Regions from separate parts of the Homo sapiens genome. Here regions 1 and 3 are each linked to region 2. Evidence: fine-mapped expression QTL. A gene starts in region 2. Each other region holds a variant in brackets. All regions are shown on one strand. Distances are between the middles of the regions.

Evidence for each region. PIP is the estimated chance that this variant, and not a neighbour inherited with it, causes the effect.
Region 1: its variant is the best candidate, but not a certain one, in a credible set for the expression of FBXO34 in cerebellum (GTEx, PIP 0.53).
Region 3: its variant is the best candidate, but not a certain one, in a credible set for the expression of FBXO34 in whole blood (TOPMed, PIP 0.58).

The regions. Positions count from the first base shown.
Region 1 is chr14:55,330,690-55,338,689 of GRCh38, reverse strand. All of the region lies in intron 1 of FBXO34 (F-box protein 34), which reads right to left. Among named protein-coding and RNA genes, the nearest start is that of FBXO34-AS1, 63 kb to the right of the region's middle. The variant C/G (reference allele first, on the strand shown) is at 4,404.
Region 2 is chr14:55,267,679-55,276,033 of GRCh38, reverse strand. It overlaps FBXO34 (F-box protein 34), which reads right to left and starts at 4,613. Exons shown (of 2, transcript NM_017943.4): 1 at 4,497-4,613. FBXO34-AS1 (FBXO34 antisense RNA 1) reads left to right here and starts at 3,956. Exons shown (of 2, transcript NR_184222.1): 1 at 3,956-4,152. RefSeq lists a silencer at 4,062-4,561.
Region 3 is chr14:55,344,171-55,352,170 of GRCh38, reverse strand. FBXO34 (F-box protein 34) reads right to left here. Exons shown (of 2, transcript NM_017943.4): 2 at 1-1,790. The coding sequence starts at 1,780. Among named protein-coding and RNA genes, the nearest start is that of ATG14, 64 kb to the left of the region's middle. RefSeq lists a silencer at 2,510-2,559. The variant A/G (reference allele first, on the strand shown) is at 3,957.

The sequences.
Region 1 (8,000 bases), 63 kb before region 2:
TGATGCACCCACCTTGGCCTCCCAAAGTGCTGGGATTACAGGCGTGAGGCACCACGCCTGGCCTGTTTTTAGGCCTAAGAAAAGAAACCAAGGTAGAGCTAGAGATAAAAGGTAAAAATGAGTAAGAGGAGAATAACTTGTTTTTATTCTAGAATAATAACAGCTCTAATACCTCTACAATGTTTACTATGTGCCAGGTACTGTTTTAAGCTCAAAATACCCATAAAACCCCAAGAAGTACATACTCTTATCTACAACTGTAGATGAAGAAACTGAATCAGAGATGGCTTAAGGAACTTACAAAGATCAAGGTCACAATACCCATAAAAGAAGTCCATACTCGCTGGCCGCAGTGGCTCATGCCTGTAATCCTAACACTTTGGGAGGCCGAGGCGGGCAGATCATGGGGTCAGGAGATCGAGACCATCCTGGCTAACACAGTGAAACCCCGTCTCTACTAAAAATACAAAAAATTAGCTGGGTGTGGTGGCACGTGCCTGTAGTCCCAGCTACCCAGGAGACTGAGGCAGGAGAATTGCTTGAATCCGGGAGGCAGAGGTTGCAGTGAGCTGAGATCGTGCCACTGCACTCCAGCCTGGGCGACAGAGCGAGACTCCATCTCAAAAAAAAAAAAAAAAAAAGAAGTACATACTCTTATCTCCAATTGTAGATGGAGAAACTGAATCAGAGGCAAGTTAAGAAACTTGCTAAGTTCGCACAGGAAGCATATCATAGAGCTCAATATGTGTGCGGTCAGGAGTCAAAGCCTACGCTCTTACCACTACACTATGCAATGAGGAAAGGAGATTCTGAAGGGCCCATGGCAGGGTACTCCTCAGCAAGCTTATCTTCAAGTGGTAAGTGGAGTATAAGATGTGTGACTGTGAAAGGAGGCAGAACTGTGGCTTCAGGTTCAATTCTGGATGCCTCAAGTTTGACACCTTACTTAAAATTAAATTCATTTGTTTATCAAATATTTAACTTCCCTCTAAGTGTCGGATATTGTGCTAGCCTGCGGCTTCAGCATGAACAAAACTGAGGAATTTCTGCCCTCAAGGCACATTTGAGAGAGATGCATCAATTCCTTAGTCTTTTCATTTCCAAATCTGTAATTTTCTAATGTATTGAAATCAACTTAGCAATAAAAGCAGCCATCATTAGAAACATTCAAGTTTTATTTTTGGCAAAAAGAGACTTCAAAAATTGAATATGATAGTCTTGAGCGGAGGCCTGAGGACGATGACATTATCAAAGAGTAAGGCTGGTACAACTATACAGAACACATGGAAGAGAACATGCACAGATATACTGTTGTGGTGTCAATTTATAACGGATTTATTTACAAAAAATTGTTCCATAGAATGAGAAATGCTAGAGAATAGAAGAAAATAGCATTAAAATATAACCATAAGCATGGACCAGGTGCAGTGGCTCATGCCTGTAATCCCAGCACTTTGGGAGGCTAAGGTGAGTGAATCCCTTGAGTTCAGGAGTTAGAGACCAGCCTGGGCAACATGGTGAGACCCTGTCTCTACTAAAAATACAAAAATTAGCCAGGCACAGTGGTGGACATCTGTGGTCCCAGCTACTCAGGAGGCTAAGGCAAGAGGATCTCGAGTCCAGGAGGTGGAGGTTGCAGTGAGCCAAGATAGTGTCATTGCACTCTAGCCTGGGCGACAGAGTGAGACTGTCTCAAAAAAAAAAAAAAAATAAAATAAAAAAAAGAGTGAAGAGACCTACCAACCAAACACACCACATAGGATTCTGAGTCAGACAGACCATAAAATAGTATATATGTGTGTGTGTGTGTGTGTGTGTGTGCGTGCATGTATATATTCTATATGTGTATAGCATTTTTTTTTTTTACATTTCTGGGAAGTTCTCAAAATGTGTGTATGCATTTTTGAGTCCTCATCTCTTACAGATACATCCTGAAATACTTTTAGATTAAATGATATAATGTCTGGGATTTCCTGCAAAATAAAATGGGAGAAAAGAAATGGTTGGGAGTATTGAGCAAACAAGACTGGCTATGAGATGATCAACTGCTGAAGCTGCATGATGGCTAAGTGGGGGGTTTCTCACTACTATTTCTGTACATAGCTAAATTTTTCCATAATTATTGGTTTTTAAAAAGGAGAACTAAACAAATGGGAGCATGTGGAAAACACTGGATGAATGAGCCTTAAAATGTTCATTATGTACATACAGTGTAGACCCACAAACTGTCCGATTTGGAGTTAGGAAACTGGAATTCAGTGGTTCCCTGGGCCAGGCAGCTCTGCAGGGACTGATCTGAAGTCCCTCCCAACTGAGCCCCAGGCTGTCTGATGCAGTTGCTCCTTCCTGGTTCAAACAACGGGCACCAACATAAGTTCTTGCCCTATTCTACACCCATTACTGAAAACTGAACAGGAAATAAATCAGAAAGCAATTTTTAAAAGATAAAAAGAAAAGGAGACAAACACATGGGAAGTATAACAATAAAAAAGAACTGAAAGACAACAGCAGTCAAGACCAATCAATCCAATTCCTAATTAAATACATATAATTTTCAGTCCCTCATTCTGTAATCTAAATGAGCAGTTTAATTAGTACCTGAATCTGCCTTGTATAAGTGCACTTAACTTTCATACTTTAAAGACATATATATATAAACATTTAAATAAATGCATAGGAAATTTTACCATTCAAAGGTATCTCATTGGAAATCCTTTTATAACAAAAATAGTCACCTCCTACATTCAGTCATGTAGGAAGGGAAAATGACAGTACTAATTTTAAAATATTAATAGTGATGTAGCCATTAATATTTTTTGAACAGTTGGCATGTAGTTATACATTGCTCTAAAGAGCTTCATTATGTATATATGGATATAAATTTCATCTTCAGGACAATTCTATGAGCTAGATATAATAATTATTCCCATTTCATAAACATGGAAACTGATTGATTAAAAGTATAATAAGCATTTTTAAATGATCAATTATACAAATGGCAGTTCATCTTATATACTAAGTACTGGGTCATTTTTTAAAATGTGCTTTATAGAGGAATTTTAAACAAAGCCAAATGCACACTCATGTAACAAACAGTCAAATAGTCAAATGAGTTGCCTAAAAGTCACCAAATTGGTTGTACAGAGGTTCCTACATACACTATACTTATTATTGTATTTTATACACCCTCTAATCCCAGTGGTTCTTCATTATCTAAAAAGAAATATAAGTCACAGATCAAAGTCAGAAGTTTGTTTTAACAGAAATGTTTCCCATTGCCCAGGAAATGGCTGAAGATAACTGAACATACACAGACTCAAGATGAACAAAAAGCCAAAGGAAAGCATTACCTACCATCAACTCCTTAAGGGCAGGATCCCAGGTATGACATTTTTATAACCCCCCTACCCCCAGGATCAAGCACAGAAGACTTTTCACATAAGAGGCACTTTTCCATAAAAAGTAAACACCACAAACTACAACTGCATTCTAGTCCCCTACATCTTCAATCTGATCTCCAAATAAAGGAGGAAATAATGCTAAGGAACTCCTTTGACTAAAAGCACCTGCCCTTCACCTGAACTCCTTTGACTTGAAAACACCTGCCCTTCACCTGCCCTCCACTCAATCCACTGCAATGGGTCAACTTAACTTGCTGGGTGGGAAACCCAGTTTGAAAAGGCAAGCCATCCCACTCTGGGGACCATTTCATAAACCCTATTCCCCAAATCCCACTATACCTCCCACAAGGAAGAGTTTGTTCTACCACAAAACTACCTTATTTCTCTAGAAGTCTGACCATCTTGTCACCAATGGATGAAAACTCAGCGCAGCAGTGGTCAATCTTTTTTGGATGCTGGACCCTTCCGAACATGTGAGAAAAGGTCTAAGTTCTCTGCCACCCAAAAATACCAAAGCACATACATAAGTGATTTTGGTAGGATTTTGGGGAAAGCTCCAGGGCTCCTGATGAAGAGCTTCCGCCTGAGTTCCTCTAACTTGCCCTTCATGTTCACAGTGGCCTGATCCTGTCAATTTTACTTTTCCTCTCTGCTTTGTGAGCATCTTTATCATGCTTTACCCACTGCAACTACTGAAACCACTTCTCCAACTGGCTCCTCGTTGCCCAGATCACATCTACTGCCCCACCCCCACCCCATCAATATTACCCAATGGCTACTAACTACATGCCTCCGTTGAATTCCCAGAACTGTGCCTTCCCAGTTTCTACCCTGGGACACTTCCCAGGTTCTACCCTGTCTTCAAGATAGAAGTAATCTTATTCTTTTCTGTGTCCATCACAGGGCACACAGCACAGTGCCCTGTACATGTAAGTACTCATTAGAGTGAATGTGCATCAAACCCTAAGGACTTAAACCAGCCAGTCAGCAAGCATCTCATAA[C/G]TGGAAGTTTATGAGTCTGACTAATCAACCCTTGAGCAGCCCATGAACTTAATGCAATTAAGCAGCTCCACCTGATTAGCGCCCTGCTTTCTCTGAGATGAGCGGTGGAAAAGGTGGAGAAAAAGAGGCCACTCTTCATCTTGGTTACTGTTCTGCAAAGCACAACAGGCTCTGGCTTGTGTAGCAGCTTTTTTCCAGCACTCTATTTACTAAAACATTCCTATGTAATCAGATTTTAAGGAAAATTCTACTCAGCAGCCATGTGTAAACAAACACTTCCACAATAAAGTTATTTAACTTAATACTATCAGTTTAACTAGAATAAAAACAACTTTCATGTTGTTAATAACCTCCAGGACGGAACAATCTAGACACGCAGGCATTCAGCTATGAGTTAGGTGACCTCCCTCTCATTTTCAAAGCACCAAACCACATCCTTTAAATACTAAAATATACAGACACTAAGTCCCAACAAGAAACACTATAAAGTCTCCCCATGAGTCTTTACTACATTAAACACAGCTGTCTAATAGGGTCATGTTTACATAGATTTAAAAAAAAAAAGCCACCCCAGCATTAGCACTAACAAAATTCCTGATAAAAAAGACTCCTACACACCCAAACTAGAAAGGAACAGGACACCAACAAGCTTAAAAATACTTCTATCTTTAAGGTTTATGTTATAAAAACATAATTAAACTATATCCTGTTAAGTTTACATTTTGGTTATTTCTGTGTAACAGTTTTTATATATTTTTAAGAGCCACAAGGTTTTATTAATTACTTCAATAGGAAACTCACTTCCCTGGTTCTAGATTGTCAAGTATGCACAGTTCACACCCAGAACCATTAGGTACTTCAATTATTAACAAACCAAACCACAAAGGAGAATCTGATACCCAAGATCAGATTTTAGTGCTGGGTTATTAGATGGTAAAACTAGAGCACAGCAAACAGCAAAACCAAGAGGGTCGAAGTAAAGGGGAATGTGGTAATAGTCAGAAATTATACAAAACTCCCTCAACAAAAATTTCTGAGAGTAAGCTTATTCTCACTTTCCTGTTACCAATCTTAGAGACAACTAATAGTACAAATAAAGAACAGTAATCATTCCAGCAGTAACCACAGACTGCTGGGATTTGTGTCTTGTGGGTCCAGCTTTTTCCTTCTCCCTCAAAGCAGGAGGCAAGGTCACCTTGTAGCTAACAATAGCCCACTAGAAAGAGAAAACACGCACATCTTCCCTAAACATAACAGCACCTGAGCTGGAAGGAATGTTTTAAATCGACAAAGTATTTTCACAAACATCTCATTTGGCCCTCTTTCTGTTCCCAAATTCACCTGCATCTTGGGGCTAATGCGCCAGCTGATCAATCCTTCTCCCCAGTCTCTGTCCGCTAGTGGCTCTCATGTCACCACAAACAGTGCCTCGTACCCCTCAGTATCTCCATACCTCACAACCTGCAACCACTGCACAGAAAAGATAAAAGTTTAGAAAGTGAAACTTGCTGAAGATCACCGTAGCTACAGAAGTAGCCATTACATCAAAAGTCAACATTTTCTGATAAACTAAAAGTTCAAAACATACCACATTTTAAGTTATAAAAAAATCTAAATAATGAGGTACACCAAGTTCTCCCTATGAAAACATTTGACAATATGTCCATACTAACACTCAGTCCCATCATGTATTATACTTCCCTCCTAGTTTTAGAAAGCAAAGTAAAAGACAATCTGAGAAAGAGCTTTTTATCCAAAAACACTTCTACAATAATCAACAAATAATTAAACATTACCCAGATGCAAAACAGAAGTTAATCTGCATTACCTGGGATCTTATGAAGAGGTGATAGCTCCAGACCTCGGTTCACACTTAGGCAGACCTTTTAAAAATCAGTTCATTTTTACATAACGACACTTTGAAGGACAGTAACATTTGCCATAATTATTGCTACTATGTATGGAATGTATAGGTGAGAAAAATGCCCAAGGATAATCAAAAAGGATGTACTTTAGAGCTCGTGCATTTACTAACGATTTAACACCTACTATGCTCCAATGTGCTAGCAAACCTGATTTAATGAATGAAAATGAAAGCCAGAAGATGTGTGATCAAAGATTCCAGTTGCAGTTCAAGTGGAGAAAAGTAGTGAGAATGAGTTATATATTAAATTTATATATATATTTAAATATATATATATATTTATACATACCACCACGGTGGTATATATATATATATTTTTATATATACCACCACGGTGGTATATATATATTTTTATATATACACCACGGTGGTGTATATATATATTTTTATATATACACCACGGTGGTGTATATATATATTTTTATATATACACCACGGTGGTGTATATATATATTTTTATATATACACCATGGTGGTGTATATATATATTTTTATATATACACCCCGGTGGTGTATATATATATTTTTATATATACACCCCGGTGGTGTATATATATATATATTTATATATACACCATGGTGGTATATATATATATATATACATATATATATATATACACACATATATATATACATATATATATACATATATATATACATATATATATATATATACACATATATATATATACACACACCATGTTGGTATATATATATTTTTATATATTTTATATATATTTTTATATATTTTATATTTTTTTATATATATACACACACACCATGTTGGTATGTGTGTGTGTGTATATATATATATCACGCCTCAATTTAGTTTTCCAAACTCTAACCAAATTAATATCAAAATAATATTGAGGTGTTATGTATTTATTTGCTCTTTATAGCTGCATATATATTTGTAACATAGAAATTAGAAAATTACATCTATACTGAAGAACCTCAATACATTTCTTCTTTTGGATATAATTCATACCTTACTCAAATTTACAAACTACTACTCCAGAACAGAAATTATTCAGTGCAGGAGAGGATGAGAGTGGCATAGGAAAAGCCATTAATATATTTTTACCAGAGAAATTCAATAAAAACCACAAAGAAGGGAGAAATTTCTAGCCAGTCTCCTCCAAATATGCAACACTGGAATTGTGCTCAAATTGAAACTACCTAGTGGGGCCTAAAGAGATCAGGGTATTATAATAGAAGCCCAATCTGTAACCTTGGTGAATTTTCTTCTGTTTCACAAGTCTAAAAAAAATTTCCTGTCTCTAATTTGAATGTTCAAGCAATCATTTCTCCTATTCAAATCCCACAGTTTGGGAGCTAAATTATCAAACAGATCTTTTATTCACTCACTCAATATATACTGAGCATCTGCTATGTACCAAGCACTCTTTCAGAGACTGGGGATACAGAAGTGAACAAAGCACAAAATCTCCATCCATAGAAAAGGTTATGTTCTAGCTGAGAGACAGATTAATAAGGTACACAGTATATAAAAGGCTATGGAGAAAAAAGGGAGCAAGGTATGTGTGTGCCATACACAAATTACTGATTGATTGAACCAGGGTCTCACTCTGTTGCCCAGGCCGAGTGCAGTGGCGTGATCACTGCTCACTGCAGCCTCGAACTCCCAGCCTCAAGCCATCCTCCCACCACAG
Region 2 (8,355 bases):
TCTAAGGAAGCCCGAACTCACCAAGTTCCATTCATTCTAGCACAATCTCAATCTGTGGTTATCTAGGCCCTTTGTCTGTCTTGGGCTATGATAAGCTATTCCCTATTCTTTTTAACTGAGTTTCTAATACCTCCTTAAATTGACCTTTAACTAACACCTCTGGCCAATCTAGCATAACATAGTTTATCCTCGTTTTTTTTTTTTTTTTTTGAGACAGAGTCTCGCTCTGTCACCCAGGCTTAAGTGCAGTGGCGCCATCTCGGTTCACTGCAAGCTCTGCCTTCCGGGTTCACACCATTCTCCTGCCTCAGCCTCCCAAGTAGCTGGGACTACAGGTACCCGCCACCACGCCTGGCTAATTTTTTGTATTTTTTTTTTTTTTTAGTAGAGATGGGGTTCCACTGTGTTAGCCAAGATGGTCTCAATCTCCTGACCTCGTGTTCTGCCCGCCTCAGCCTCCCAACGTGCTGGGATCACAGGCATGAGCCACTGCACCCGGCCAATAGTTTATCCTCTTGACCCAACTCTAGCCTCTCACACCCAAGACCCATCATAGCAAGGCAATGTTAAAACAAAGGTTAAGGGTCCTTGCAGCAAGGATATATCATCTCTGTGTCACAGTCCCTATCTGAGTACCTGGCACAGAAATACTCAAAAAAATGTTTGCTGGATGAATGAAATCCATACCTAATAATGCAATAACCACACTTACATAGCACTTAGTTTCATATTTACACCTATACTCTACTGAGGATAGGAAATGTACATGTTAGGTTTCTGAAGCTGAATATTTTAAAATGGATTACTGAGAGCCTCTTCTGTGGAGCATTAACTAGAAGATGGAGGTGGGAATGAAAGGTTGATAAGTTCTTTTAACCAACACTAACAAACAACTACACTGTATTAATGCTCTCCTGGAAAATAAAGTATGTCATCAGCTTCAAAATACCATAAGCATTAACTAAAGGGGAGAAGATAAATTATGCAAAGATAAGAACTGACAGGAATTCAATTTCCAGATGACCTAAATGCATTTCGAGTTAATCTGCTCTTTTTTGTTTTTGTTGCTTCCAAAGGACTGCAGATTATGCACTTGCTGAATTTTGCCTTTGTCACACATGACCTAACAAGGAAGGCATTCATCATACCATAGTAGCTTCCCTCAAGTATCTGGTTCTAAACAGCTGCAAATTTTGGAAGATAACACTAAATGATGTCTCTAAAGATAAGTATGTTTTCTCCCAAACAAATATTAAAACAAGATTAAAGTTACTAGAACATAAAAACTGTCAAATTAAGCTAGCTGAACATAAATTAAGTTTAAAAAATAAAGTAAAAATTTTTAAGAATTTAAATTCTAAATGTTAATAAAATAACTGATCCAATAAACATATCCTGAGGAATTTCTACAATACAGCACTCTCATCTTGACATTTGCTTTTATCCATCAGAAAGATGGATAACGAATGACTGTTTAATTTAGTGCCTTCAAATTATATAAGTGAATAAAATGACTTAAAATAATAAACCAATCTCAAAATTAATTTCCATAAAACCATTTATATGAAGTAAAAGCTGCTTCCCAGACCCAAAACTGGAAAGCATGGGTGAAAAAGATCCTGCCAAAAATAGAAACAGACTGTAAAAATGTTTCACACGAGTTCTGGCTTGTTAGATAATTACACAACACTCACAAGCTGGCTTTTTAAATATCTGTCGTTGTCCCTCAGTCACATCAGTATGCACTATGACATTTATTCTTCACCTATTAACTCATTTTCCATGAGGAAAAATAAAAACTTCCTAACTGCTAAGCAAAATAGAGAGGAAAAATGCACTGCCGAATAGCAGGTATCTCCTTATCAGCTGCAGGTCTTTCAACTCTTATTTAGTCTGACTTTCATCCTTTCCCATTAATACTAGCACACCTGGCCGAGAACGGTGGCTCACACCTGTAGTCCCAGCACTTTGGGAGGCTGAGGTGGGCGGATCACGAGGTCAGGAGTTCATGACCAGCCTGGCCAACACAGTGAAACCCCGTCTTTGCTAAAAATACAAAAATTAGCCGGGCATGGTGGCACGCACCGGTAGTCCCAGCTATTCGAGGGGCTGAGCCAGGAGAATCGCTTGAACCCGGGAGGCGGAGGTTGCAGTGAGCCGAGATCGCACCACTGCACTCCAGCCTGGGTGACAGAGCGAGGCTCTGTTTCAAAAAAACATACAAAAAAACTAGTACACCTAACTTACATACAGCCGTGTAGCCGGCCCCAGAATCGCTACCGCTCGGGAAAGACACATGCAAGCGTCCATTTTGGACCTCCTTCAATTGCATTACATAGTATCTTGCCAAGATTCTTTCATCTTAAAGGTTGACTAACACTCTCAATATCAGCAGTTGCATAATAATTCAAGTGCCTCTCAGTCTCTGGTGATCCAAAGGCTCAAATGTGTATCTTTCATACAAAATTTTGTATACAAAATTTGTACATACGAAAAATAATTTGTATACAAAATTGTATCTTTAGAGACTTCACTCAACACTGTCAGCATAAAATTCCTCATTTCTTAAAAGAAGGAAGAAAAAACCAGAACAACTTTCAGTAGCGCACACAATGCTGTCAAATTCCCAAGGTTGTGGTGAGGATCAAAATAACATGTACAGGAAAGCCTTGTTTTGTGAACTTCCAGTCAAATCCAATAGTACCTAACGGGTAAATTTTTGCTTTTATTTCCTGCCTGAAAATGGGCATAACTTCCATCTGCATGTTGATGTAAAACCCAGAGAGACAGTATCTTATCAATCACCTCTAAAAGGCAAATGGGGAGCAGGAAGTATTGAGAGAGAGGAAAAAAAAAAAACCGTACCATTACAAGTCAAGGTCAGTGAGGAAGGATTAAGGACTTCTACCCAAGCTTCCTGCTAAAGACTAACTATGCTTCAAGTTTAAGCCATCTACCTTTTGAACTAGATTCCATTTACATTATTCTACAGAGGAGGAAATGAAAAGTACTGATATGCTGGAATACCCGAAGAGGGTCACTATGACAAAGTGACTAGCTTCTCTTCCAGTTAGATCTCTTCTGAAAGCTTTGGAAGAAAAACAGTATTCACAGACAAATCATTTTTTTATTCTCTAATTTCATATTTAAAAGCACTACAGACAAAATTTTAGTTACCTATCCAGACAAGCGGTCCTGGAATATGTTTTTATATTAAGTTATAGCCGGGTCTCAGTAAGAAAGCAAGAAAACAGCTTGTTGCTGACTTCTAAACCATGGTAGCATGGGGTGGTAGCATGGTACCATAGGGTGGGATAGGGACAACCTGGATAAATTAACTCCTCAGGTAATTATTATTTAAGACAAATGTTGGATTAATTCAAACTCCTCCCTCCCTTTACAACAGAAAAAAAAAATCATGTAAGATCCACTCTCCCTCCTCCTGGCCATTTTCTAACAAAAAATGCTAACAAGCAGATAGATGTCCAGTTAAAAAAAAAAAAAAAAAGCAAACTGATTTATCAACACTAGAAGTGGTTCTCTTTTTTTTCAGTAATTCTGATTGCAAACTATCAAACTACGAATTTAGCTTCCTAAAAGGCTTTTTACATTACACCCTCCAAAAAACCTCCTACCCTGACTTAAGTTTTTCTAAATCAAATGTCTTATACTGAGCTGTACTCGCAACGCTTGCTGGACAAGAAGTTAAAGAAATTGACAACTATTACATTAAAATTGCAAAATGCTGATACCGAACAACTTTCGATTCAAATCCACTGCGATTCCAAGCGTTCGTGGAAGACAACTTCCTTTTTCTACCCTGCGGGTCCCCCCGGCCCTTCCGTGAGCCCAGGTCCCCGCCCGGGCCTGCAGTGACATCCCAGGACCCATCTTCTGACGTCACAGACACACGGACCCACAGCCCTATGACTTCATCGTGGACTGAGGACGAACCGCAGTCGACTTGCGCCAGCCCAGAGGCTGGGGAGGCGTCCGAGCCTCCGTCCCGCCTCGTCGTTGAAGAAGGTTAAGGACAAGCGCCAGCTCACCTGCGCTGGGGCAGGGAAGGGCAGAGTGGCCGAGCCCGGGAGGGCGCGACAGGGGCGAGGCGACCCCAGTCCAGAGGCTGACTTCCTCACCGCCCTGGGTCCCGTAAGTGGGAGCGCCGGTCCGGTGCAAGCTCACGGCCTATCCGTGAATCTCCTCGGCTTCAGCGGGGACCCAGGACCCCGCTCCCTACCCGCCCGACCCTCCGTGGCCCGCGGGGACGCTCAGCGCCCGGGCCGTGCGCGCGGAAAGAGCCGCACCGGAGGAGGCGCAGGCGGCCGGGTCCCTACCCCGGACCCGCGGGCGGCGCCCCCGCCCCCACCCCCACCCGCCCCGCGCCCCGGGAGCGCAGGCAGGCGGCGGTAGGGGGCGGGGAGCGGCCACGGTGGCCGCCGCCGGACCCCAGTCGCGCGGCCCTCGCGCCACGCCCCACCTCGGCCCGGACCCACCTGCGCTCCTGCCCCGGCCGCGGCCTGGCCCGGGGCTGCACCAGCCCGACGCAGTGGTGGCGGCAGCAGCGGTGGCGGGAGGCCTGGCTCACTCCCCACCGCTGAGTCGGACCGAGCACCCAGCGCGGCGCGGCGGCGCCCAACGCTCGCCCCGAAACCCATTTGTTTGGCTAAAACGGAGTGACGTCACGCGCCGGCCCAATCGACGGTTGGCCGGGGGAGGGGCCACGGATCCAGAGTTTCACGGCGCCCCCTGCCGGACACTGGGGGCGGGAAGGGGGAAGTGAAAAGGGAGACCTGGATGACGCGTCTGCGGCCCCCAAGTGGTAGAGAATGAAAGTTTGAGCACGACTGTAGGGAAAGGAATCAAACCTCCCAGGCCAGCCAAGAAGGGTAGTGACGCCAGGGTTCAATCAGCAGACATGTCAAGTTTATGAATATTCGTGGGTGGACCTGAAGCTGTAAATGGTCTCAGATACTATTAGATAACCTAGTAGACCTGGATCCTCATACTGGTTCTGCTGCTAGCTTGGAAGGCTGGGGTTCAGAGTTTCAATTTGTAAAATGACAAAATTGGAAAGGTCCCTTCTGACTCTCTTTCCTATGAAAATCATGGCAGGGATACCGGTCAGAAAGTAGATAAACGTTGAGGCTGACACGAAACTGTTAAAGTCTGTAGAAGCTTAAGGGCTGGTTAATGATGGATATAAATTTTTAACACTTTATATTCAAATCAGAGGGCCAGTGAGGAACTTTTGATTCCCAATCTTTAAGCTTATTATTGTTTTCATTGTGAAAATAATATTAACCACATTGAAAAACATGAGGACAATGTATTTTCTTCTAGACCTTTTGCCCCATCACATATATTTTACTACACTGTAATAGTAGTTGTACGCGATTTTGCATCCTCTTTTCACTTTTATAAGCATTCCTCATATTTCCACATAAGCTTCATAACCAGTTTAACAGCTGCATAAAATTACATTAAGTGGACATAAAATTTACTGCAGTAATTCTCTATTTTTGGACATAACTTGTTTCCTTCATTCACTTTTTGCCATTATAAAGAAATCATAGAACATCTTCATGAATGTAGATTTTTAAAGATACCCAAAAGTGAAATTACTAGGTGAAAAAGACTATCAACACTTTCACAGTTACTAATACAAACTGCCAAATGATTTTTAAAAGGTTGTACCAAGTTACACTTAAACCAGCAACTTTGATTTTAGCCAGTCCTTAACAAAAATAATTTTGTCCAATTATAAAACTACTGTTGTAAAATATATGTGTAAAATCTTAAATATTAAAACGTAAAAACAAAATAAAAATATTTCCCATAATCTCATCACCAAGAAATAACCACTCAGTATCTCCATCTAGACCTTTATCTATATACATATTTTTAATAAAAATTGGAGAGGGGAAGTCCAGGCACGGTGGCTCACATCTCAAAAAGGAAAAAAAAAATTAAGGAAGGGTGTTATATGGTACACCGTGGCATCAAACTGTATGTCTGATTTAATATGTGAGCAATATTAGCTCAATATATCATGATCATTTGAAGCTTCTTTATGTCATAGTTAGCTCAAAATTGTAAAACTTCAGTTTATCCTTTCAGATTCATCTCAAACACTGTCCTTCTTAAAACCTCTTGATTCCTTCTGGGCATGGTGGCTCACGCCTGTAATCCAAGCACTTTGGGAGGCCAAGGCATGCAGATCATTTGAGGTCAGGAGATCAAGACCAGCCTTGCCAACATGGTGAAACCCTATCTCTACTAAAAATACAAAAATTAGCCCGGTGTGGCAGGGCACGCCTGTAGTCCCAGCAACTTGGGAGGCTGAAGCAGGAGAATCGCTTGAACCTGGGAGGTGGAGTTTGCAGTGAGCTGAGACCACACCACTGCACTCCTAACTGGGCGACAAGAGTGAGACTCCATCTAAAAAAAAAAAAAAAACAAACAAAACTTGATTCCTGTTGATTAGAGGACTCAAAAAATTGATATAAAAATGAAATTAATTTTAAAAGACATAATAAAAGCCCGAACTATTAATTATTATATTTTTTCATCTTTTTCTTGAGGCAGGGTCTCACTATGTTGCCCAGGGTGGTCTCAAACTCATGGCCTCAAGCAATCCTCCTTTCTCAGCCTCCCAAATAGCTGGAATTACAGGAGTGAGCCACCATGCCTAGCCTATGAATTATTGATTATTAAAGTCCACAGACATAAAATTATTCTGTCAAATTGCTAGTAAAGTTTCTAAAATCTGATTCTCAATTTCAGTTCTTGTCTCAGATTGGCCAGTGAACCACACTTTAAATAGCCCCAGTCTAGGAGAAAAGAACTAGGAGAGAGCATAACCATGTTAGGCAAGAACTTCCCTTGATTTTGTTTCTCCATTTGTATAATGGCAATGATCCCCTAGAAGCAAAGCCAGTAGAGCCAGTATAGTTTATCAACCCACAGGTCCTGTGGTAGGTCTTCAGGAAGGTGCTCCCCAGGTGGGCATGGGGTGGCACATTGAGGCCATGGGACTGGTGAGAGCCGAAAGAAGAACAAGACTGAGGTGGCACAGCAGCAGAAAAGTTCTAAATATATATAGTATATATATTTGGTTATTCCATTAGTAATTAAAACTTAGTTGTTTCAAGCCAGCAAACATATTAATTAAAACTCAGTTCAAGGGATTTGTCTTGTATAGACTTGGTTTCATTTCTGTTCTTTGCTCAGAAAAAAAAAAAAAAAAAACTAAGAACTTACTGCTTATTCCTTAATAAGCTTACTCCAACCTCCAAATAAAAACACCCACTGCTATGGTTTGAACGTGTCCCCCAAAGTTTATGTGTTAGAAACTTAATCCTCAATGCAACAGTGTTAAGAAGCGGGACCTTTAAGAAGCAATTAGGTCATGAGGGCTCCGTCCTCATGAATGGATTAATGCCATTATCAAGGGAGTGGATTACTTATCAAGAGAGGGAGTTACTATAAAAGCAAGCTTGGCCCTCTCTATCTCTCACTCTGTTAGGTGTTCTCTTGCTCTTCCACCTTATACCATGGGATGATGTAGCAAGAAGCCCCTCAAGAGTTATGAACCCCTTGACCTTGGGCTTCCCAGGCTCCAGAACTGTAAGAAATAGATCTCTGTTCTTTATACATGACCCAGTCTCAGGTGTTCTGTTATAGTAGCATAAAACAGACTAGGACACCCACCATTTCATCTTCTCTCTCTCACCCCCCAACCCTCCTTATCAAACTTACTTCCCCGCTGCTGGAGAAAGGAAACCAAGAGACAGGCTCCATTAGACTTTGCATCTAGACCTACTTTGCTGCAGAACCTAGGCCGCTGGGTGTGATAATGCCTTTCCCTACCTACTTGACTGTGTTATTATAAAGACCAAATAAGAAAAGAGAAGCAGAAGTGCTTTTAAAAGTTTCAACTTTGCAAAAGTAAAGCATGTACTTAAAAAATATGCCTGGAATGTGGCCGTTGGAGCATGCTTCAAGCCCTGAGCTTATGCCCAGGTTTATGCATGTGTGAAGCTCATTGGTGATGACGGGGGGATGGGCAGGAGCTACTCAGCCATGAGAATATAAATATTATCCACAATAAATAGAACAACTCAGGGAAAACTAGAGCACCAAGGCAGCACACTGTCTAACAGATATGATTCTATCTTATAATTAAGATGTGGATGGTGAGGGACATAAAGTTGAATAAGTATTGAAACCCAGGAAATCATAGTTCTTATCCTTCTTATCCTTCTTTTTAGATCTTGTGCCCCTGTGAAAATCTGATAAGAGCTAAAAATCAAGAGTCTCTTTGGAGACTCTTAGCAGAAGTAAAAAAGCACA
Region 3 (8,000 bases), 76 kb before region 2:
TCTTGGTGGGAAGTAACCTGAAGATTTTTACCATAATGTGGTGGGGCAGAAAAGCCATGTACTGCTGAGGCTCCAAAAGCTGCTGGATTTTAAACCTGGTCTCCAGGAAGTCATGCGACACCTGCTTCTTCCAACTGGATGCCTCAAGCACTGGTAATGTACTTTCCACAGAAGAGGCTGGCAGTACAAATGGCTCAGCAGACCCACTTTTTTCCTCAGATGCACTGTCACCCCCAGCAGCATCTTCAAGCTGGCTGGCCTCTGAAGACTCTTTTGTTGTGCTTTCATTCAACTGGGAATAGTCTGACAAGTGCTGACCAGGTGGCAAAAAAAACAACATCCCTGGAACTGGGTCTTCACAGGAGTTTAAAATGGAAGGCTGGTCTTTGTCTACCTTGGACACAGTGATACTAATGCACAAAGATTCTTTTCTTTGATCAGGATTTCGGCTAGTAAGGGACACAAGCTCTCTGCTCATACAATCAACAGCATCTGTGGGCAATTCAGAGGCTTGGGAATAGGTATGAGAGGAAAAAGGTAACCCAACGAGTTCATCTGTCATTTCCACATCATATCTGTTGCTGTTTTTCACGGCAGTTTGCGAACCCGGCTCTAACTCTGCACTGTCTATGTGGAAACTCACTCCTGCTGGCAATGGGGGGCAGTCCTGAGAAGCACCGTCCCAGGCCTGGTCCTCCTTAGGAGAACAACGATCAGCTCTTGAAGGGCCACAATCCACAGATACAGACCCCACAGGATTCACCTGAGTGTCAGGTGCCTCCAAGACGCCTTTCTTTGTTTTGCCTTCATCAGCCTGAGTGCTATTTGCAAGCAATACTCTGCCCACATTTCGACGGAAGCTGTTATTCCTTGAGAGGCTCCCAGGCTCACGCTGGCCCTGCCGCTTCAGGCACTCAGACTCCAACTTGGCTACCATGTCAAGGACACGGACTGGTTCGCTCTGTGGTTCACCAACCTCAAGATTTCCCCTTTCTGTGGGTTCTTCACAAGCTCCTGGGGCAGAATAGGACTCAGACACTGCAGGCACACCTCTGGATTGGCCAGAAAACCTCACAATTGCAGGTGAGTTTGTGCAGTTTTTTGAACAGCTAGCTAGCAGAGCACTGGCTCTTTGCTCCAAGAAGGCAACCATCTGTATAACTGACAGAGGCCTCCCAGCATAGACTCCATCCCCACTGTCACTCACATAGTGCACAGAACAGTGCTCAATGCCACATGCAAAAGGCTCAGGTTGGTAGCACCTGCTGTTAACCTCCCTCATCCTTTCCACCTGTACCTTGGCTTTTTTAAGATCCCCTGATTTTTTCCTTCTCTTAGTAGCTCTCCCATCAATATCCCAGGAACTTTTTATTTTCATAGATCCTATCCTGTTACTACACTGGTGGGATGCAAAGAATGCAATTTTTTCCTTGGTATTTCCAGGTTTCACAACAGCCCAGATATCAAGTGGTCCTTCTTCTTCGCCCTGGTGGATCGTTGCAGATGGTGCATTCTTTTTGGTTTTAACATTCAAGCTGCTCTCTACAGGACTCTTCCCACTCATACTGCACAGAACATTTGGAGAAAGGATCCCAAATGGCTTTCGAGATGATGCTTTACCGAGAGAGGCTGAAGGAAAGACACTTGATGTTATGTGGCTAGCTTTGCATGTTTCATCATTTACAGCCTTTTGGTGGTTCATAGGAGTTCTCTGCGTTTCCCTGCTGACTTCCGGGGGGTGCTCTTTCTTCTGGAGCTTCCAATATGGCTTTAGGTGCATAACAAAGCCCCTATAGGAAAGAAATACACATTTGATTCAGAAACCAATTTTGTTTTTAGAAAAAAATGTTTTTAAATTTAAGCTCAGATGGTTCTTAGCAACTAAGAAAAACATGTTCTACCAGTTCATTAAATCTTTACCAACTCTCTCATGATAGTTTTTACTGCACATATCAAGAATAACAAACAGCTACCAGTTTATATGGTGTGTAGTACTTTTTTTTTTTTTTTACAGAAAATAAATTGGTTTTGACTGAAGAACTTCAGAAACTGACTTCAGTTAACATTTGGTAAACTTTAACCTTTTAAATTAAAAAAAAATCTGAACTTCCTGAAAACAACTAAGTATTAGGCATAGTACAGAAGAAAGGAAAGTATAAAAAGAACTCCTCCAAGATCCCTACTAGATTTTTAAACACCCTTTCTAAATCATCACAATTCGCATTTTATTAGTTGCAAACAGCCCATCAAAATTATTGCTTCCTGGCCGGGCATGGTGACTGACGTCTGTAATCCCAGCACTTTGGGAGGACAAGGCAGGCGTATCACGTGGGGACAGGAGTTGAAGACCAGCCCGGCCAACATGGGAAAACCCTGTCTTTACTAAAAGTACAAAAATCAGCCGGGCGTAGTGGGGCGTGCCTGTAATCCCAGCTACTCGAGAGGCTGAGGCACAAGAATTGCTTTAACCTAGGGGCAGAGGCTGCAGCCAAGATCGCACACACCACTGCCCTCCAACCTGGGCAACAGAGCGAGACTTTGTCTCAAAAAAAAAAAAAAAAAAGAAAATTATTGCTTCCTAAACTATTCCCATACCACTGAATACTGAATATTTAGATGTTTACAATTTTTCATTTGCTTCCTGTGTACTTTGCCCATCTATTAGTCTTGATTTTCTAAATAATCTATGTGTAGAAACATTTAACTGTCGAATTTCCTGTAACCATCTTAAATATAGACCCTACAGTCCTTATTAATTCTAAAACCATTTTAAACTAGTTCAGAAAGATGGTGCCTTGTTTTGGTCCTTGGCCAGGGGTAGAGATGGGAGCTATTTCAGAAACGAGACAAAAAGATGATTACATGCAGAGACTAGTGTTCCAGTCCCTGCCATATCAGTGATTATCTAGACATGGTGATTTTACCTTGGGCAAGTCACTTCCTCTCTCGGTCTCAGCTGAAATGTTAACTGAGGGGCTGAAATACTAGATAACCTAATGAACTTGTCAATGTACAATTTACATAAAACAGCCCACTGCTACACAAAACACCCTGGATTGAGGAAAGAGTGTTTTCTAGGGATGGCTGGACTCCTGCAAAATAAACCTAGAAACTAAAGATCTGCAGTCCCAGTTTGGTGGGAGTGAGGCAATAGTACCTACAGGTCTAAGCACGTGAAGTTTCACCTACTCTTGCTCACTGGGACAGCAGCTGAACACATACATCTCAGACAGCTCAGTATATTCATCCTCCTTTGCTCCACATTTACTGGGTACCTGCCATATGGCAGCCTCTGTGGTAACTGATTTCAGGTTATCAGTTTTAATCACCAAGAATGAAAGTGATCGTCTGGAACAAGTTTACCTTTCACCTTCAACTTTTAAATCCTACATTCTAGTCTCAGATAAAAGAATTATGGATATTGATATCTTCTAGCCAGATAAAGAGAAATTTTGCATTTAAAGCATACAAAGTGTTTTTTAAAAGTTACCCCTGAAATAGGAGCCAGGCATGGTGGCTCACACCTATAATCCCAGTGCTTTGGGAGGCATAGGTGGGAGGACCCTTTGAGGCCAGGAGTTTGGGACCAAGTTTATTCCTAGTGATTAAAACTGGTATCTGAAAACAGTTACCATAGAGGCTGCCATATGGCAGGCACTCAGTAAATGTGGAGCAAACGAGGATGAATACACTGAGCTGTCCAAGATGTATGCTTCAACTAGGAAAGCCTGGGCAACGCGGCAAGACCTCATCTCTAAAAAAAATTTTTTTTTAATTAGCCAGGTGTGACGGCACGTGCCTGTAGTCTCAGCTAATGGGGTGGTTGAGGCAGAAGGATCTATTGAGCCCAAGAGTTTAAGGTTACAGTAAGCTATGATCACACTGCTATACTCTAGCCTGGGCAACACAGCAAGACCCTGTCTCCAAAAACAACAACAACAAAAAAACCCAACCAA[A/G]CAAACCCAACCAACCAACCAAACAAAACCTTTGAAACAGATCTTATCAGGGTCTTTCTGATCTTTGGCAATTTATAGCCTAATCATCTGTAGAGATCTTCCCCCTTTCTGCACTGTGACATTTTTAATAGCTTTCTATCATTATACTGTATAGTCTTACAAATAGAGCTACCCAGAATTCAAGAACGGATGACATATAAATGAATAAAAGAGGCACACCTAGTGCTCTCTGTGCCAACTATTTTCTACATTTTCATATCCGTTCAACCCCATTCCTAAATGAAAGAAATGGAAGTGTTGAAAAACCCAATAAATTCTCACATAATGATCTCATTACACAGTATCTATGAATAAATTTAAACTTTAGCAATATGTGCGCCATTGTGCATTGCACAATATGTTCTCTTTGACTTCTTCCCCCATATATTATTTTAGGTGCTATTATTGATAGAGAGGGACATTAAAAAGAAACTAATGTAATTACAGAAGGCTTTTATTTGCATTCCAGCTTTAAAGTCAGCTCAACTAACACTTTGTGTGCAAGATTTTAGCAAGATTAAAATAGGAGGTGATCCCAGGGAACAGACGTGAGGGAAGGAAAATAGCCAGTAAGGACACACAGGGTGACTGCTGCAAAGTGGGGTGATTCTGTGAGACCCCTGAAAGAAGCAGGACATTTAGGCACCAGCTCCAATCCCTCACTGGTTGAAGGTTGCCTGAGGTTAGCCTTTCCCCATCATTTGCTGGGTTTGAGAGCCCTGAGGCAGAAAATAGAAAGCTGTTGGCAAGACACAGAGAAACTACAAAAATCTAAGTTTTGTTTGAAACCAGTGATGGCCTGAGAGGATATAATGCAGGGAGCAAAGGGCATCTGCTGCAAAAATCCATAAAGCAAAAACTTTAAATCTCCAACAGATTACAACAGATGGTGGCACTTTCCCACCCCCAAGTCACCCCCACACACAAAGGCAGGCATGGGTGGGGTAAAGCTCCAGCTAGGTTTCCATGGTTGCCAACCTCTTCATCACAATTGTATTTTAAACTGTTGCTATAATAAAGTCCTGCTCTCTTGCAATAAAGTAAAATGCAGGTTTATAGCACCTACACATCAATGTTCTTCAGATTCTCAGAAAGGCCCTTAGAAGAAATTAAGATCCCCTAGGCCCGCTGAATCACAATTTCTCAGACTGGGCCCAGAATCTGTTTTTAATGTTAGGTTGAAATTGGAAGGGACTTTAGAGGTCATGTGTTAGATCTAATGTAAGAGTAGGATTCTGGATGTGGACTGGGGTGCTGGGCTACTAACGGGTAAGGTGGAACTGCCCAACAAAATGCCAAGCAGACAGTCCATACTGAAGCATCTCATCTAAGGGCTGGGTAAAAACACACCCGTTTTCTTGATATTTTCTTTTTAAAACACAATAAACTCAACGGCCTTTTTTCTCTTAATTTCCTGGCTTCTAGAGCTGAAGGTCAAATGGCCTTTTTATTGCCAAATTCCCTCTTCAACCACCAGCTCCTCAGTTTCTTTGACATAGACTTCCCAGCTCTCTTCTTCCCCAGCCCCTAAACATCAGTGTTCTTCAGAGTTCTTTCTGTTTCTAGACCACTACTCTTCTTAAGCTATATATCTAAGTGATTTCTTGTAGTTTTAACTCAAACATTTCCAGTGACACACTCTCCCCAACTTCATATCCCACAGCCTGGTAGACATACTCACCTGGATATCAAAAAGAATCTCAAAATCAACACTACTAGTTAATGATAGCCTCAAGTATACCTAGTCCATTAAGCCAGAAGCTTGAGTCACTTAGATTCCTCCTTTCTGATCCCCACATCTCATCGCCAAGTCACTAAACTGTGCCACTCTTTATCCCTAGCACAACTGCCCTAGTCATCTCTGCTACACTGTCATCAGTTATTGGAAAACCTAACCTCTATCAATACAAGCAAAGTGCTGAGGCCCATTCCAGCCAACCTGACAGCTTTACTCCTGCTTTGCTCTACCATACTTCACACTTTGAAAGCTTGTTCACAGAACCATGACTACTAGACTAGGTAGTGAAAGCCAATTATATTAAGATACAATTTGAAGGCAGCCAAGACCAAGACCATAAAACATGTAGCATCAGATTTTTTATACTAACCTCCAACCTACAAATGTTCATTTCCTTCTACTCATTTTTTATTTATTTAATTTCGTTCTTTCTGAGGCAGGGCCTTCCTCTGTCACCCAGGCTACAGTGAGTGGCGTGATCTTGGCTCACTGCAGCCTCAACCTCCCAGGCTCAAGCAATCCTCCTACCTCAGCTTCCCAAGTAGCTGCAACCACAAGCACATGCCACAATGGCCAGCTAATCTTTTTAAAAATTTTTTGTAGAGACAGGGTCTCACTAAGTTGCCCAGGCTGGTCCTGAACTCCTGGGCTCAGGTAAGCCTCCCACCTTGGCCTCCCAAAGTATTGGGATTACAGGAGTGAGCCACCACACCCAGCCCTACCTGTTTATTATCAGAAATGTCCTAACCGCTCTGGGCTAGACACTGGTATAAATATGAGTAAAACATAGTTGCTGCCCTTGAGACAGAAAAGCAAACAATTACAACAAATGTTATATGTGTCAGAAGGATAGCACAGGGTGCTGTGAGAGCCCATGGGGAGACGGGGAGAAGAAGGAAGAGGTATGGATGAAGAGGGAGAAGGGGACATCAGCACCAAGCTCACCTGAGGGTATAGGAACAGGTCAGAGAAGTCCTGATTTTCTAAGCTAAGCCCTGAGGGAAGATACGCAAAGTCCTAAGCCTTCAAAAGTGGATGATGCTTTTAGGAAATTCAGGTAGGTGGGAAATAAAGAGAGTCTAAGTTAAGGTGCTAAGAGTAGAGAGATGACAAGTAAATGGGTTCACAGGAATAACAAGAAGGTTTCTAACTACTGACTGAAAATGGAGGATGAGGGAGAGGAGTCAAGGATGGGTCCTCATCTATGGCTTCAGCAACTACATGAAGAGTGATGCCTCCCAGTGAGATGGCAACAGGTGGCTGAGCATACTTGGAGCAGGGGAGGCAGAGGTAAATTCACTTTAATAAATGTTGGGGTCATCATTTGACCCCATCATCATCCTGAACTCCTGGACTCAGGTAAGCCTCCCACCTTGGCCTCCCAAAGTATTGGGATTACAGGAGTGAGTCACCACACCCAGCCCTACCCGTTTATTATCAGAAATGTCCTAGCCGCTCTGGGCTAGACACTGGTATAAATATGAGTAAAACATCGTTGCTGCCCTTGAGACAGAAAAGCAAACAGACAATTACAACAAATGTTATACGTGTCAGAAGGATAGCACAGGGTGCTGTGAGAGCCCATGGGGAGAGCAAACTAACACAGGAACAGAAAACCAAACACCGCATGTTCTCACTGTGGGAGTTGAACAATGAGAACACATGGATACAGGGAGGGGAACATCACACACTGGGGATGTTGGTGGGTGGTGGGGGTGGAGGACAAGGGGAGGGAGAGCATTAGGACAAATACCTAATGCATGCAGGGCTTAAAACCTAGATGACAGGTTGATAGATGCAGCAAACCACCATGGCACGTGTATACCTGTGTAACAAACCTGCAAATTCTGCACATGTATCCCAGAACTTAAAGTAAAAAAAAAAAAAAAAATACACATACACAAAAATTAACATTGGGCTTGAGTGCCTACAAGACAGAGATATCCAGGAGGCGAAATGACTCAGGTCTGGTCAAGAGAAACAGGAGGAAAGGAAGAAGACAGTTGTCACAGAAACATTTCAATGAGGAGAAAGTTTTCTGGATAGAGATAACAACTCTTTTTCCAAAATTTTTCACAATGACCATGTATTACTTTCATAATCAGGAAAAAAAAAAAGTCTGTAAAAGGAAGGCACAGTCAGCAGCAAGGTCAAATAAAGAATTGTGCCCACTTGGTGATAAAGACCCCTGGTGACCCTGCTGTGAGGAAGTACAGTGGACAAGAAGTCAAAAGTTCATGATGGAGGGGTGACTAGAAGGTGAGAGG